Linked DNA regions of Homo sapiens: region 2 is linked to region 1. Evidence: fine-mapped expression QTL. Tissue or cell type: whole blood. Region 1 holds a variant in brackets; the other region holds the start of a gene. All regions are shown on one strand. Distances are from middle to middle.

Region 1 (8,104 bases):
GTCTCGATCTCCTGACCTCGTGACCCACCCGCCTCGGCCTCCCAAAGTGTTGGGATTACAGGTGTGAGCCACCGCACCCGGTCCTTTTTTTTTTTTTTTTTTTTTTTTTTTTTTTTAGCTCAACAGCTGTCATAGTGTTAATGATGTATTTTATGTGTTGCCCAAGACAATTCTTCTTCCAATGTGTCCCAGGGCAGCCAAAAGATTGGACACCCCTGGAACAGAGTATGGAAAGGGAAATTAGCAGCTTACGGTGGGTAACTCTGGTAGACAACGCCTTAACCAAGTGATCAAGGTTAACTTCACCAGTGAGCAATCAGGTAGATATCATGTGCCCCCTAATATTATGTGATGAGAAGGCCATTTCACCTCTGGGGTATTCTTTCCCCAAACCCCAACTGCAGTCTAATGATCAGAAAACATCAGACAAATCCAGATTGAGGGACATCCTACAAAATACTTGACCAGCCCACTTCATAAATGTCAAAGTCATAAAAAAACAAGGAGAGACAGAGAAATTGACATAGATTGAAAGTGACTATTATGATATAATAATTAAGTGCAACATTATATCCTGATTAAATCCTGGAACAGAAAAAGGACATTAGTGGAAAAAACTGGTGAAATCTGAAGAAAGTCGGGAGTTTAGTTAATACAACTGTGCCCATGTTAATTTTTGAGTTTTGATAAATGTATCATAATTAGTACGATATTAACATTGGGGGAAGGTGGATGAAGACTACGGGGGGTTCTCTGGATTTGCAACTCTTCTGTAAATCTAAAGTTAACTTTAGGGGGTATATGATGTCAACCTGATTTAGCTAAAGTTAACTTTAGATTTACAGAATAATTGCAAATCCAGAGAGAGGGAAGATTTAGGTTGGTGCAAAAGTAATTGTGGTTTTTGCCATTGAAAGTAATGGCAAAAACCACAGTTTCTTTTGCACCAACCTAATAAAATAAAAAGTTTAAAAGGAAAAAAATCTCTCAAATGAAGACGTAGGTCCACACAAGGACTTGTATGTGAATGTTCATTGCAACTTTACTCAAAATCATCCAAAACTGGAAGTAACCCAAATGTCCATCAACTGGTAAATGAATAAACAGACTGTGGTATATCCATTCAGGGGAATGCTACTATGCAATAAAAAGGAACAAACTATTGATACATCCAATAATATGGATGAATTTCTTTTTTTTTTTTTTTTACATTTTTTTTTTTTACATTTTTTTTTTAATTTATTTTTTTATTGATAATTCTTGGGTGTTTCTCACAGAGGGGGATTTGGCAGGGTCATGGGACAATAGTGGAGGGAAGGTCAGCAGATAAACAAGTGAACAAAGGTCTCTGGTTTTCCTAGGCAGAGGACCCTGCGGCCTTCCGCAGTGTTTGTGTCCCTGATTACTTGAGATTAGGGATTGGTGATGACTCTTAACGAGCATGCTGCCTTCAAGCATCTGTTTAACAAAGCACATCTTGCACCGCCCTTAATCCATTTAACCCTGAGTGGACACAGCACATGTTTCAGAGAGCACAGGGTTGGGGGTAAGGTCACAGATCAACAGGATCCCAAGGCAGAGGAATTTTTCTTAGTGCAGAACAAAATGAAAAGTCTCCCATGTCTACTTCTTTCTACACAGACACGGCAACCATCCGATTTCTCAATCTTTTCCCCACCTTTCCCGCCTTTCTATTCCACAAAGCCGCCATTGTCATCCTGGCCTGTTCTCAATGAGCTGTTGGGTACACCTCCCAGACGGGGTGGTGGCCGGGCAGAGGGGCTCCTCACTTCCCAGTAGGGGCGGCCGGGCAGAGGTGCCCCTCACCTCCCGGACGGGGCGGCTGGCCGGGCAGGGGGGCTGACCCCCCCCACCTCCCTCCCGGACGGGGAATATGGATGAATTTCAAAAACATTGTGTTGAGCAAAAGAAGTGAGACACAAGAGACTACATCTGTATGACTGCATCTATAGGAAACTTTAAGAAAGGCAAGACTTTAGTGCAAAAGCAGATCAGTGCTTGTTAGGAACAGGAGTGGGGAATGTGGGGGGTAGAGAGAAGTAATTGACAGCTAAAAGTCACAAGGGAAGTTCTAGGGGTGATGAAATGTTCTGTATCTTGATGGGGCAGTGGTTACATGACTACAGTGTGTGTATATATATGTTAAAACTCATCAAGCTGTACACTTAAAGTGAGTTCTATTCTATGTTAGCTATATCACAATATGGCCAGGTGTGGTGGCTCATGCCTGTAATCCCAGCATTTTGGGAGGCCAAAGTGGGCAGATCACTCGAGGTCAGGAGCTTGAAAACAGCCTGGCCGACATGGTGAAACCCCATCTCTACTAAAAATACATAAATTAGCCAAGTGTGGTGGTGTGTGCCTATAATCCTGGCTACTTGGGAGGCTGAGGCAGGAGAATCGCTTGAACCCAGGAGGCGGAGGTTACAGTGAGCTGAGATTGCACAACTGCACTCCAGCCTGGATGACAAAACAAGATTCTGTCTCAAAAAAAAATTATATATATACATATACACACACATATATATATTATATATCACAGTAAAGCTGATTTTTAAAAAATCTCTCAGCCCCTGCTATTGCTTTGTTTTTATCCTCCTGAGCCTCTCTATAGCTATGGCACTTGAATTTCCTTCTTCCTCTTGGTGGCTTTTGTTCTGTCTTATTTCCTGATGCCCTTTCTAGGTCCCTAAACATTAGTGCAAAGAGGGCACCAGAGCAGAGGGGAACAATTCTCTCTACACTCAAGTGGAATCTCTGAGCTGAGGGACCCAGAGAGGTGGAGTAGCCAGCAGGGCCCTGATGACCCGCACCTGAACTCCCACGGGTCTGACGGCTGCTGTCACAAGAGCCTGGGGCCGCTGGTCTGAGTGTGCTGGCGATCCAGCCAGGCTCAGGACGCTGAGGAGGAGGTAACCGAGACCAGGCTTCTCCCTTGTCAACAGGCAGACAGATCCCGGGGATCTTGTTAAAACACAGAGGCTGATTCAGCAAGCTGGGCGGGGGCTGCAGATTCTGCATTTCTAATAAGCTACGGAGTGATACGGTGCTGAGGGTTGGAGGCCCACACTCTGAGCTCAAAACGGAGACCACAG[G/A]GATATGCAATGTGTGCAGAGAAGGGGGAGGATGGCACAGGCTGCAGCAGTGGGGCGGGTGCTTGGCTACACTTGGAAAGGAAGTTCTCACAGTGTCTACAGCAGGAACCCAGACAGTTTCTGAGCCATCCTGGGGCTACTACAGGGACTGGGAAAATTGCACCAGTTGGGGAACAAAAAGTAAACAATGGTCTTATTACAATTAGTATGGTCTTTATTGCATGTAGGTGACAGGCCCTTAAAGAAGGTTTCATCCAGACATTCTCCCAGATCCCTCTCCATACTCTCTCAAGAAAGTCACCTGGGCCAGGCGCAGTGGCTGACTCCTGTAATTGCAACACTTTGGGAGGCCGAGGCAGGCGAATCACCTGAGGTCAGGAGTTTGAGACCAGCCTGGCCAACATGGCGAAACCTCGTCTCTACTAAAAATACAAAAATTAGCCAGGCGTGGTGGTGGGTGCCTGTGATCCCAGCTACTTGGGAGGCTGAGGCAGGAGAATCGCTTGAACCTGGGAGGTGGAGGCAGGAGAATCGCTTGAACCTGGGAGGCAGAGGTTGCAGTGAGCCGAGATAGTGCCACTGCACTCCAGCCTGGGCAACAGAACAAGACTCCGTCTCAAAAAAAAAAGCGGCCAGGCACGGTGGTTCACACCTGTAATCCCAGCACTTTGGGAGGCTGAGGTGGGCGGATCACGAGGTCAGGAGATCGAGACCCTCCTGGCTAACACGGTGAAACCCCGTCTCTACTAAAACTACAAAAAAATTTAGCTGGGCGTGGTGGTGGGCACCAGTAGTCCCAGCTACTCGGGAGGCTGAGGCAGGAGAATGGCCAGAACCTGGGAGGCAGAGCTTGCAGTGAGCCGAGATCATGCCACTGCACTCCAGCCTGGGCGGCAGAGTGAGACTCCATCTCAAAAAAAAAAAAAAAAAAAGGAAAGAAAGCCACCTGTTCATTCCTGTGGCTTCACCACGGCTTCCCCAAGGGACTCCCAAATCTGTCCCTGATGCTGCTCCTGCACGCCCCCAGTGTTGCTAACAGCTGGTAGCTATCTCCAGCTCCTTAATTGAGCCTGAAACTCACCATGTCTCAAACATGCCTGCTTCCTCCTGTACTATCTTCATCAGCTGGTGGTTGTACTAGACACTTCTACGACTCTAAATAACCCTTCCATAGCATTGCCTGACAACCAAGACCAAGAGATAGTCACCCCTTGTCACACTCTCTAGTTTCTTTTATAATGGTTATCTCAGCTGCAATTAATTAGGGACAGGATTATTTGTGAATATCCATCTCTCTCACAGGACAATAAAAGGGCAGAGGCCCTCTCTGCTCTGTGGTCTGCTTCCCACTCTGCCCCAGCACCAAGCCGAGAGGCTGGCATGAAATACAAGACATGCAATTACATCGTAAGTCTCCAACTCAATTCTGACACATTAGGAGTCTCTAAACACAAACATTAGGGACCATGTCAGTTTCTGAAATGCTCTTGTTTACTGACATTTAATCATTTTCCCAGGGACGGCTTTCTACAAGATCAGGCTGACCTCTTTGGGGGTTTTATTCTTAGATGATGAAGATATTTTGACACAAGGCCCAAAGGCAACATGCACCTGGTTGTGGCTGGCAGGTGGCTTTGCTTTTTAGATACAGAGCTTGGAGCTTGCCCTGAGTGACAGTAACTTGTAAAGCAAATCTGTTTGGGGCAGAGGCAAAGCAGATCTCATTAGACTCCTAAAGGGACATGTTAGTATAGCTAGAAAGCAATACCTGGTTCCAAAATTCAGAATTTTGCGAGAGCCACTCAATCACCAAGCAAGGCCACTTCAAAAGCCTATGACAACATCCATTAATACTCCAGTCACTCTGGATCAGAATAAAAATGAAAAAGGTGCAAATGAAACTTCTCTCACTGGTCCACACCACCCTCCCTGAACCTTGTATCTGAAAAGATATTTTAGTTCAGAAAAAAAAAGTCTCCAGCGGGGCACAGTGGCTCATGCCTGTAATCCCAACACATTGGGAGGCTGAGGCGGGTGGATCACCTGAGGTCAGGAGTTCGAGACCAGCCTGGCCAACATGGTGAAACCCCATCTCTACTAAAAACACACACACACAAAAAATAGCCAAGAATGGTGGTGCACACCTGTAATCCCAGCTACTTGGGAGGCTGAGGCAGGAGAATCACTTGAACCTGAGAGTGAGCCGAGATCATGTCACTGCACTCCAGCCTGGGTGACAGAGCAAGATTCATCTCAAAAAAAAAAAAAAAAAAAAAAATCTCCTAACTGGCTCAGGTCCCTTTTCAGCTAAATTGGGAAGAAAAGCAGGTGAAGGAAACAAATGGTCCTTAACACAAGAATGCCCAGTTATTATTTTGCAAAAACAGTCAAAGCCCTGTTAATAGCAGGAACATAGTCTTCTCTTAAGGAGCTAGATTGCTTGCTGGATTTGGGGGGGAAGAAAATTAATACTCACTACTGAGGTATTCCAACAGTTGGAATGAAGTAGTTGAAAGAGAGGATCAAGGCAATCATCATCTCCCAGCCCAACCTCCTGCCAAGCACCAGGGCCAAGCACTCCTCCTGCGACTCCCAGAGGGTCCTGTTCAAACCACAGGTGCAGAAGGTGCAGACATCTGACTCCTATTTCCTCTGTGTCCAAGAGTGGGGGTTTTTCAAGCAAAAGGGCTAACAACACTGAATTCGGAAGGCAAGAGGGGTACTTTGAAGTGGGACTCTTAGAGGACTGCTGAACTTACTGTGTTAAAAGGGATGAGTTAGAAAAAGGCCAACACCTGGCCCTTTCTCTTTGCTGTTTTGGGTCGTGTGGGAGGGCCCTGCATGAATCCTTTACTAGGCACTGGTTGCTGTGAGTTTCAGCTACTAATGGGTCCCATCTGCCCCCTTGTTTGTAAATTGCGTTTGAACAAATGGGAACCTCTCCACCTGTGGGAGGCCCACAACCAATCAATGGCTGACATTGAGAGGGGTACAAAAGGCTGACTTTGGCCAGCCCAGTGGCTCACACCTGTAAATTCCAGTGCTTTGGGAGGTCAAGACAGTAGGATCAATTGAGGCCAGGAGTTTGAGACCAGACTGGACAACATCGTGAGACGCGCCCCCCCCCACCCCCCCACCCCACCATCTCTACAGAAACTTTAAAAATTAGTTATGCATTTGGGCGTGTGCCTGTAGTCCCAGCTACTCAGGAGGCTAAGGTAGGGGGATCGCTGGAGCCCAGAAGTTCAAGGCTGCAGTGAACTATGATGGCACCACTGCACTCTAGCCTGGGTGACAGAGGGAGACTCTGTCTCTAAAATAAATAAATAAATAAATAAATAAAGGCCGACCTTGCCTGACGGGGGGGAAACCAGCTCTGTGATGCAAGTCATGGACTCCCAAGACACCTGAAGTTTAGATTTACCCCCGCCCTACCATCCTCCCAGCCCTCTAGCCCCCATCCCATACATCATCTCCATGAGAATCCCTTGACTTCTAGGGAAACCTGACAAAAGGCACAAGGAGCTAAGCTTCCACGAAGTTTTGGGAGTATTTGGTTGATCCCAGGAAGAGAATTTCCAGTTCAAGGTCTCCAGTGCTTCCCAAGGGGAACTAGGCACAGAGGACTCAGAACCCAGCCCAGCTAAAGCCCCGAACATCAGAGAGGAGCCTCATTTCCCTATTCCACCTTATACAGATTGGAGAAAGGCTATCCAGTGCAGGGGCTCTGTCATTCGTGGGTGACAGCTCCTGGATCCTATGAAGATCCTACCACAAAAAAGCTGATTTTGCTAGTTCCTGGGCACCCTGAACCCAAGTTGGGGACAATTCAACATTGGCATGTGAAATCTCCCGGAGCACTTAAAAGGCAAAAAGAGTTATGTCTGCCACCAAGTCTTTTTCAAGCAGCTGCTTATGGGATTCCACATCGGTGCTACCATCACGGCACAGACTGTATTTCCTTAGTGCATTTCAAGACTTTCCTCTGCACTGGCTCATAAGGAAACCCTCTCCCAACACACATTCTATTACATTCCCTTCGTCCCCTTTCTCATTTTCCTCTGCTCCTCCTGGGGCTTCCCACAATTACCTCCCCAAATCTTCACCTTAGAGGTGGCCTCTGGGGACCGATCACTCAAAGACAGGTGTATGTTCAACAACATACACTCTTAAAATCCCGATTTCACAGTGAACAGACACAGAATGCAACACACACCTCTGTGATCTAACTAGCCATCATTTGCTAGCCAAAGTGCTTGATTCTGGGGCACAGTCAATTAAAAGTGAGAGTTGTGGCCGGGTGTGGTGGCTCACGCCTGTAATCCCAGCACTTTGGGAGACCAAGGCGGGTGGATCACCTGAGGTCAGGAGTTTGAGACCTGCCTGGCCAACATAGTGAAACCCCATCTCTAATAAAATTCAAAAATCAATCAGGCCTGGTGGTGCATGCCTGTAGTCCCAGCTACTCAGGAGGCTGAGACAGGAGAATTGCTTGGACCCGAGAGGCAGACATTGCGGTGAGAGGAGATTGCACCACTGCACTCCAGCCTGGGTGACAGAGTGAGACTCTGTCTCAAAAAAAAAAAAAGTGAGAGAGTTGTAAAATCGTGGTCCAAAACACCCTACGAACTTTATTAAATTCATAACGCTGTGCTTTTTTTGGTGCAATTTTAAATTAGCTTTTTAAATTAGCTTCCATCAATCTTCTCCTGGTCCACTGTATTTCAGATGTTGAACTCAGGACAGTGTTGAAAGATTTTTACGGGGTGAGTTCCACAGTTCCAATTCCAATTTACCATTCTTCCTTTTGTGACTTCCTCTTAGAGTTCGCCAGCCTATGGGTCCTTGAGGACTGAAAACCAATGAATTAATCAAAGGAAAAATGTTCTGTTTCCTCCATTTAGAAATTCATTGAAATATAGATGAAGTCCATCATGAACAGCAGGACGTTCTGAGAAAGCCATCAGCCTAAATGTCTTTATGAATAA
Region 2 (8,104 bases), 92 kb after region 1:
AGTTGCTTCCTCATTTTCAATGTGGAAAAAGGGTCAGTGGAAAAGGGGATGGTGGAGACTGTGGAATTTACTATCAGTTCTGACTCTAGGGGTTTAACATCTGGCAAACTAGGCCTCATTTCTTCATCCATCATCAGATTTAGCTAATCTGAATCCTACTAATTGGAAACATCTATTAATCTAAATTGCCCTCCTGCTTCTCTGACAAAGCCGAAAATGACTTCAGAATATGAACCTTACAGAAACTGAATCATACTTTGGCCAAAATGAATTATACATTAAAGAATTTATAATTATATTACAGGTGGAGTCTGATGAGTCTGATTTTGTTGGCCAATTAAGAAAGGAAGGGCTGGCTGGGCGCAGTGGCTCATGCCTGTAATCCCAGCACTTTGGGAGGCTGAGGCAGGCGGATTGCCTGAGGTCAGGCATTCAAGACCAGCCTGGCCAACATGGTGAAACCCCGTCTCTACTAAAAATACAAAAATTAGCCAGACGTGGTGGCAGGCACCTGTAATCTCAGCTACTCAGGAGGCTGAGGCAGGAGAATTGCTTGAATCCAGGTGGCGGAGGTTGCAGTGAGCCGAGATCTCGCCATTGCGCCCCACCCTGGGCAACATAACAAGGCTCCATCTCAAAAAAAAAAAAAAGAAAAGAAAAGACAAAAAAAAGGAAGGAAGGAAGGAAGGGCCTCCACCTATATCATTCAAATGTAATTACCCCACGGTATACCTGTGGGTATTTCGGTACAAAAACAAAAGTGGGAAAAGCATCTGCCTGAGTGTTTCAGAAAGCCTGAAAAGGGAACCAACTAGGATAAAGAGATTTTGTAGTTAGTAGAGAAGATTCTAGAACTGGTTCTTTTCTTGATTATCACCTGCAATTTTCTGTGTATTTCATGCAGTCCCAACATTGCTCCTAGAATCCAAACTCATATCAAAAAACAAGGTCATTAGGATATGGAGTAGAGGGATCCATGCCTCCCAGCTGAATTACTCTAGCTCAACTGCCCACAAGGTGGGACAATCTCCACCTTTTCTGGAAAGACTCCTATTAACCAGTCCCATTCATTTGCCCTTCTCTTTCTCCACAAAGCTATGTCCTGCTTCTCCACTTACAAGGTCATATGCAACTCGAATCTCTGTCTACCCACCTGGCATCCACCCTTCCAGACCCTGCTTAAATGCTACCTCCTCAAATGCCAACGAACTCCAAAACTCGGTTGTTCATTCTGGTGGAAGCTGATCTCTCCCTCCTTGGCAGCCTGTGTCCCCGTGATGCGTTTTGTAAACTTGCAGCTACTTTGATCTTGTCTTGGATTGTACTTGGGTCTTACCTTAACCCTTGGTCCAGATGGCAAATACGGACAGCCCCTGTGAGCTCAGCCATGTTCTCAGTTATGCATCTTTTTCTCTCCCAAAGCACATCGCCCCTCTCACCAAGTAGTGGCTCAAAAACATATCTGATAGTTTCGAGGCACCAGATTTAAATATAAAGACGGTCTGGGTGGCTGATTTCATGTGTGTTGCCACACCAAACCACACTAGTGAGTTTCACGTTGCCTTGCTTGGCTTTGGGCTCCCTCGCTGTCCCTGGACAGAGACGCTCAGCAGTCGTGGAATCACCACAAAGGTGGGGAGGAAGAAGGGGAAGAAAGGGAAGCCGGGGCCGGAATAATCCTATCTGAGTCACCACTTCCTGAATACTGGAGCTCGCGGCTTCGCAGGATCGGGAGAAGGACAGCAGAGCCGCGCTTGGAGGACGAGCCCCCGCCCCGCGCCCGGCGCCCCCAGCCGGCAGCCGCGGCCCCGGCACCACGTGCTGGAGCGCCCTCCTGTGGCCGCGTCGCAGCCCCCGCCGCTCCCGGCTCGCGCGCCGCTCCCCGCGGCGGAAGAAACAAGAGACGCAGAAAGTTTCCGAGCCAGGCGGTTTGCGAAAGGACACAGCCGGGTCCCGAGCCTCGAAGGGCGGACGTGCCGGGAGCTGCGCCCAAGCCCGCGGCGACGGCGAGAAGTCGGGCCCCGCAGGGACCTCCCCTAAGGGCTCAGAGGTTCCTCCCGCGGGGCTCGGGGCGTGCAGATCCCGAGGGCGCAGGGCTCCTCCTCGCACCCCTACCTGACCGCAGAGGGCGGGGAGGGGAGGCTGGGCCCACGGCCAGGACGGGATGCCCCCCAAACCCCAGCTACAGCGCGCGCCGGGGGCTCTTGGGTTTGGTTTATTCATTTTCTTATTTGGAGGGAGGGGGCGCACCCACTCCCTTTGGCTCATAGTGATCCCCAACAGTCTGGATTCTGGGCGCCCCCGAAAAGCCCACCCGGAGTCCGCCGCCCCACCCAGCGCCGCCCTCCCCCGCTGGGGTGACAAGTGGAAGCCGCAAATCCCCTCCCTCCTCTCCTCCAGGCTTCGGGTTTGCGGGGTAACGTCCACCTGGGTTTCCTGCCGCTCGCCCGGGGCTCGCCGGCCAGGAGGCGGCGGTAGCGGCGGGGGTCCCGGAGCGGGCGAGGCCGGGCCGGGCGCGGCGCTTACCTCGTCTACGGTGAGCGGCATGCAGATCCGGTACTCTTTCAGCAGCATGGTCCTGCCGGCCGCGGACCCCCGGGGCGGGAAGCGGGGGGCGCCCCCAAGACCAGCAAGGCTGCTGCCCAGGCGCAGGGCAGGGCGCCCGGAGCCCGGCGCTCGGAGCCGGAGGGCGAAGCAGCCCCCGCGGCGCGCTCAGCTCCTGGCTTCCTCCTCTCCGCCCCAGAGCATGTCAGGGTTTGGGTCTGGGTGTTCGCAGCTCCCCCGCCTCCTCCCTCGCCGAGGCCGGTCCTCCCGGAACGCGGTGTTGCAAAGTCAGGGAGGCAGGGAGGGAGACCCGCTGGGGACGACTCTGCTCGGCTGCCCAGGGTGGTAGGAGCGGCCGCCAGATCAGGACATGCCCGGCAGCGAGCGAGGGAGGAAAAAAGAGAGATTTCCAAAAATTAAAACGAATGCACAAAAGTCACCCGCTCGATCCGCCTCCGAAAGCAGACGGGAACCTGGCGACCCCCCTCCTCCGGCGGGTCTGCCCGATGCTAATGTCACCAGGAACACATTGCAGCCGGAGCCGGAGATGCTGACTTTCCAGACAAAGGCTCGATCGGCTTCTCTCCGCGGGCGGTAAACAAGATTTCCTGCTCTTTTTAGGGCCGGTCCCCGCGCCGCTCCGGGGCTCGGCTCGGGGAGAAAAGGGAAGCCGCCGCCGCCGCCGCCGCTCGGCTCTGCCCGGCTGGGGCCCCGGGCGCCTCCAACCTCGGCTCGCGGCTGCCAGGGGCGGGCGGGAGGAAGCTGGCGCCTTCCGCGCGCGTCCCCTCCCCCGAGTCCCTCGGCTCCCCGGGCGCCGTGCGTGCCCGCGAGTTTGCAGCCACCTCGCCGGGGCCGGAGCGTCCGCGCCGATGCAGTGTGCCTGGGGCCGGGAGGTGGGTGCGGGAGGAGCGAGCGCGAGCGAGGCTGACATCAGCAGCGGCCGCGGCGGGGAGGGTAGCCCCATCCGGCCAATGGGGAAATGGCAAAGAATGTGGAGGATTTAAACAAAACAGCATGTCTCTGCCAGACGGCGGGGCTGCTCCGGAGCGGAGCCCGGCCGGCGCTGGGGAGGCTCGGGCAGAGGGGCTTTCCTCGGCTCCTTTGCCCTTTGAATCCGCTCTCCATTGTGCCCTGAGTGCTGCCGTGCTCCATCCAGCCCCTCTGGGAAGTTTCTGGTCCCCTGACCCTAGGGACAAGTCACCAATGCCCACCACCTATGTGTGGTCCAGTAAGCAAGTCTGGGGCTGGAGAGGCAATGGGTGGGATTTGGGAACAAACCCTTGCCTGGTTTCAGAGGAGAGATCCTGGAAAACTGGGAAGTGCAGCCGTGTGAATGGAAATGAAGTACAAACGGGGAGGGAACAACCAGAGAGAACATGAACCCCACGTAGCCTGTTACCTCGCCTGGCCCGGCTCTGCAATCTTTCTGCAGATTGTGCAGGCTCCGCGCAGCAGAAAGAAAGAGTAGGTTTTCGTATCCGCACTCCTAAGTTCAAAAAGTCACAGTGAAATGTCAATGAAAATGCCTGGAGTGTTGCTATTTGATCCATATTAAACAGATCTCTCATTTTAACCACAAGAAGCACATTCTTCAGTTACTCAGGAAGCAGCATGGAACTGCTGAAGTCTGTTTTTCATTTGTCTGGTATTTTTCAGCTTGTTTTTATGAAAAGTTGCCGGATGAAAAATGCATCAGTTGCCTGTATGAGAATAACCTGTAAGCGTTATCTTTTCTCCGAAAAATCTTCACGCTCTGAAGTCCTGAAGCTAGAGCTTAGATGGCGATGCAGATGCCTCAATACAGTATTTTGAATTGTGTTTAATTAATAAGTAATTAACCAATATGACGATGATGGGCTTGTGGCAAAAGTCATCCAGAGGGCTGGAGAGAATTTATAACTGTTAACTGATACAAACCCTCCTAGGAAAATGATACCCTATATCCAGCTTATATTTTAGTGGAAACTATTTTCCAGATAAATGCTTTCCAGAGTTGGCTCAGAAATATTCACAGCAACTAATTAAAGCTAAACCAAATTCCTCGAGGTGGAAAATCTAAATCTGACACTGCAGTGTTGAATAATAACACATTGGAAGGCTGTGATATGGAAAGAAACTCAAGCTGTTTTTCCTTTTTTTTTTTTTTTTTTTGCTTCTTACTTGAAAACAAATGGAAGACCTAATAATCTTCCCAGAGGCAGGAAGGCAAGGGATTGGCTAGCCACACATGCGCATGCACTTGGGACATCGGGATGTGTAGGCTCAGTTCCTGGCTTCCTGGACATTTCCTGACACTGATTCTGGAAGGAAGTATTCTACTGACGGGTGACACTGTTGAGGAGCTACTTCTCTGAATTTCCCGAACTGTAAATTGTCACATATATGCTTCCTCCATCATCCGTCTTGTTGCTGTTATTGGTTTGTGATGGAGTTTCGCTCTTGTTGCCCAGGCTGGAGTGCAATGGCATGATCTCGGCTCACTGCAACCTCCACCTCCCGGGTTCAAGCAAGTCTTCTGCCTCAGCCTCTGGAGTAGCTGGGATTACAGGCACCGGCCACCACGCCTGGCTAATTTTGTATTTTTAGTAGAGATGGAGTTTCACCATGTTGGTCAGGCTGGTCTCAAACTCCTGAGCTCAGGTGATGGCCTCGGCCTCCCAAAGTGCTGGGATTACAGGTGTGAGCCACCGCGCCCAGCCCACCCCTCCTGTTGTAAGGTGACTTCTCCATTGGATTCTCATTTTCTTTTCATTCATTGCATCCGCAAACCTGGTCATATTAATCTTGTGCAAGTACAGCTCTCATCCTGCCACCTTCAAACCTTTTAGTGATTCCTGGCTGGGCTCGGTGGCTCACCCCTGTAATCCCAGCACTTTGGGAGGGGAGGTGGGCCGATCGCATGAGCCCAGGAGTTCAAGACCAGCCTGGGAAACATGCTGAAACCCTGTCTCTAAAATTTAAAAATATATAAAAACCTTTTAGGGCTTCTCTATGGCCTACTGAGCAAGTCAAAATGCTTTGGTAGGAGGTTCAAGGCTCTGGATCTACCTTTCCCACATTAGTCCATTACCCTTCCCAGCCCAACTCCAGCCAAATGAGACGAGTCAGTTGGCTGCAAAAGCCCCTCCTCCCCGGCCACCTTTCTAGCTCAACCCTTCTGCTGTTCAACCCGTTGCCTTCACAGAGAATCCCTCTCCCCAATTCAATCCCCATGACACCATTTTAAAGCCAGGCCTTGGCAATCTGCGCTTCAGACAGTGGTTCTGATAGCAGTGAGCTGGAGGGGCTAGCAGAGGCGGGAGGGGCTGGTGCAGGGCATAGGGAGGGCATATTCATTCATAAGTCATGCACACTGAGGGCGGGGCGCGCCATCTACTGGCCAAGCACTGTGGTTTTAAGTCCTGTCCTCAGCAAGTGTCTGGCAAGAATTGTATCTTTGTTTCTTCTCAACCAATGAAGTCGCAATATCTACTTACGAAGAGCCTTGAAGCTGTTGCTATCATCATTATGGACAGTCATGATGTTCCATTAACAATGTACAATCTGCCGTGGCTGATCATCACATTTTTTTAAATGGGGGTGGGACACAAAAGGCAAAAAGAGGAACAAAACAGTAAAGTTACCAGAGAGGAATGATAAGACAAAGAGGAAAAGAATATGAGGCTGTGCATGTCTGTGACAGCATCTGTTCTCAGATAAGTGACAGTCTCTGAAAGCAGGGGTTCTCAAAACGCAGGAGGGGGTATGGCACACCAAGATAATCTAAGAAGACTGTCAACCTATTCTCTTCGAGGCATTCTGATGATCTCTTTAATCCTCCATGTCTGTGTGAAAAAACTAATAAGGTCTTGACCCACCTCTGTAAACAGCCTCTGAAAGAAAAGTGTACTAACAGGAATTTCTGACGATTAAAAAATGAAGGCCGGGCATGGTGGCTCACGCCTGTAATCCCAACACTTTGGGAGGCCGAAGTGGGCGAATCACTTGAGATCAGAAGTTCGAGACCACCCTCGCCAATATGGTGAAACCCCGTCTCTACTAAAAATACAAAAAGTAGCTAGGCGTGGTGGCTCGCGCCTGTAGTCCCAGCTACTTGGGAGGCTGAGGCAGGAGAATTGCTTGAATCTGGGAGGCGGAGGTTGCAGTGAGCCGAAATCATGCCACTGCACTCCAGCCTGGGTGACAGAACAAGACTCCATCTCAAAAAAAAAAAAAAAAGATTTGTCCCTTCTCTATATATATTTATTCAAATATATATATATATATATATATATATATATATATATATATATCTGTGTGGATTTGTGCTTATTTATTCTATACTTCAAGTTATAATCAACATTATGTTATTTATTTTGCTGCTCAGACAGTTCCAGCATTGGCTGTTGGGAGCTCTTTCTGGTTGGCTCCTATGTGCTTTTGACATGGCCTCTTTTTGTTTTTTGTTTTTTGGTTTTTTTTTTTTTGAGCCGGAGTCTTGCTCTGTCACCCAGGCTAGAGTGCAATGGCTTGATCTCAGCTCACTGCAACCTACGCCTCCCAGGTTTATGCGATTCTCCTGCCTCAGCCTCCCAAGTAGCTGGGATTACAGGCATCCGCCACCACGCCCGGCTAATTATTTGTATTTTTAGTAGAGACGGGGTTTCACCGTGTTGGCCAGCTGGTCGCGAACTCCTGACCTCAGGTGATCCACCCGCCTCGGCCTCCCAGAGTGCTGGGATTACAGGCGTGACCCACGGTGCCCGGCCAACATGGCCTCTTTTTTATAACATTTTAAAAATCAAATGTTATTCTTGCATTTTTTTTCTTTTTTTTTTTTTTGAGACAGGGTCTCACTCTGTCACCCAGGCTTCTGTGGAGCAGCATGATATCAGCTCACTGCAACCTCCACCTCCCAGGTTCAAGTGATCTTCTGGCCTCAGCCTCCCAAGTAGCCGGGACTACAGGCACATGCCACCATGCCAGGCAATTTTTGTATTTCTTTTGTAGAGATGGCATTCTGCCATGTTATCCAGGCTGGTCTGAAACTTTTGAGCTCAAGCGATCCAACTACCTTGGCCTCCCAAAGTGCTGGGTATAGTGTGAACCACTGTGCCCAGCCTACAATTAATTTTTGTTTTATTAAATATTACTTGCTTAATTCCAACAAAGGCTAAGTGTTTGTGTGTGTGTTTGTGTTTAAATACCTGTATATTTGATCTTGTTTGGTTACTAAGCTAATGTTAAATTCTTTCTTAATGACACAGAGGAAGTCCCAAGGCAATTCTTATGTATAGACCCACCCATCTATCAGGCCTCTGTTAAATATAGACAATGTCTTTGATGTGGAATTGCTTGTATTTTTGCAGTAAATGCCCATAAAATAAAAGTGAATTGACAATGATGTGTTACAAATTGCTTCACATAGAAAAAAAACTGGAGGTTCTGTGGCCAAAGGTATAGTTTCTTTTTTAAATAAGTAAGATAGCAATAAATTGGCCAGTGCGGTGGCTCACACCTGTAATCCCAGCACTTTGGGAGGCCAAGGCAGGCAGATCACTTGAGGTCAGGAGTTCGAGAC

The links. PIP is the estimated chance that this variant, and not a neighbour inherited with it, causes the effect.
Region 2: PITPNC1 starts here. The variant in region 1 is fine-mapped to the expression of PITPNC1 in whole blood (TOPMed, PIP above 0.99).

The regions. Positions count from the first base shown.
Region 1 is chr17:67,464,345-67,472,448 of GRCh38, reverse strand. The region is part of intron 1 of PITPNC1 (phosphatidylinositol transfer protein cytoplasmic 1); the gene reads right to left. MIR548D2 (microRNA 548d-2) reads left to right here and starts at 864; the gene lies at 864-960. It overlaps MIR548AA2 (microRNA 548aa-2), which reads right to left and starts at 960; the gene lies at 864-960. The variant G/A (reference allele first, on the strand shown) is at 3,117.
Region 2 is chr17:67,372,625-67,380,728 of GRCh38, reverse strand. It overlaps PITPNC1 (phosphatidylinositol transfer protein cytoplasmic 1), which reads right to left and starts at 3,448. Exons shown (of 9, transcript NM_012417.4): 1 at 2,527-3,448. The coding sequence starts at 2,574. RefSeq lists silencers at 1,594-1,953, 2,064-2,363, 2,374-2,793, 3,144-3,393, 3,444-3,563 and 1 more and an enhancer at 2,949-3,642.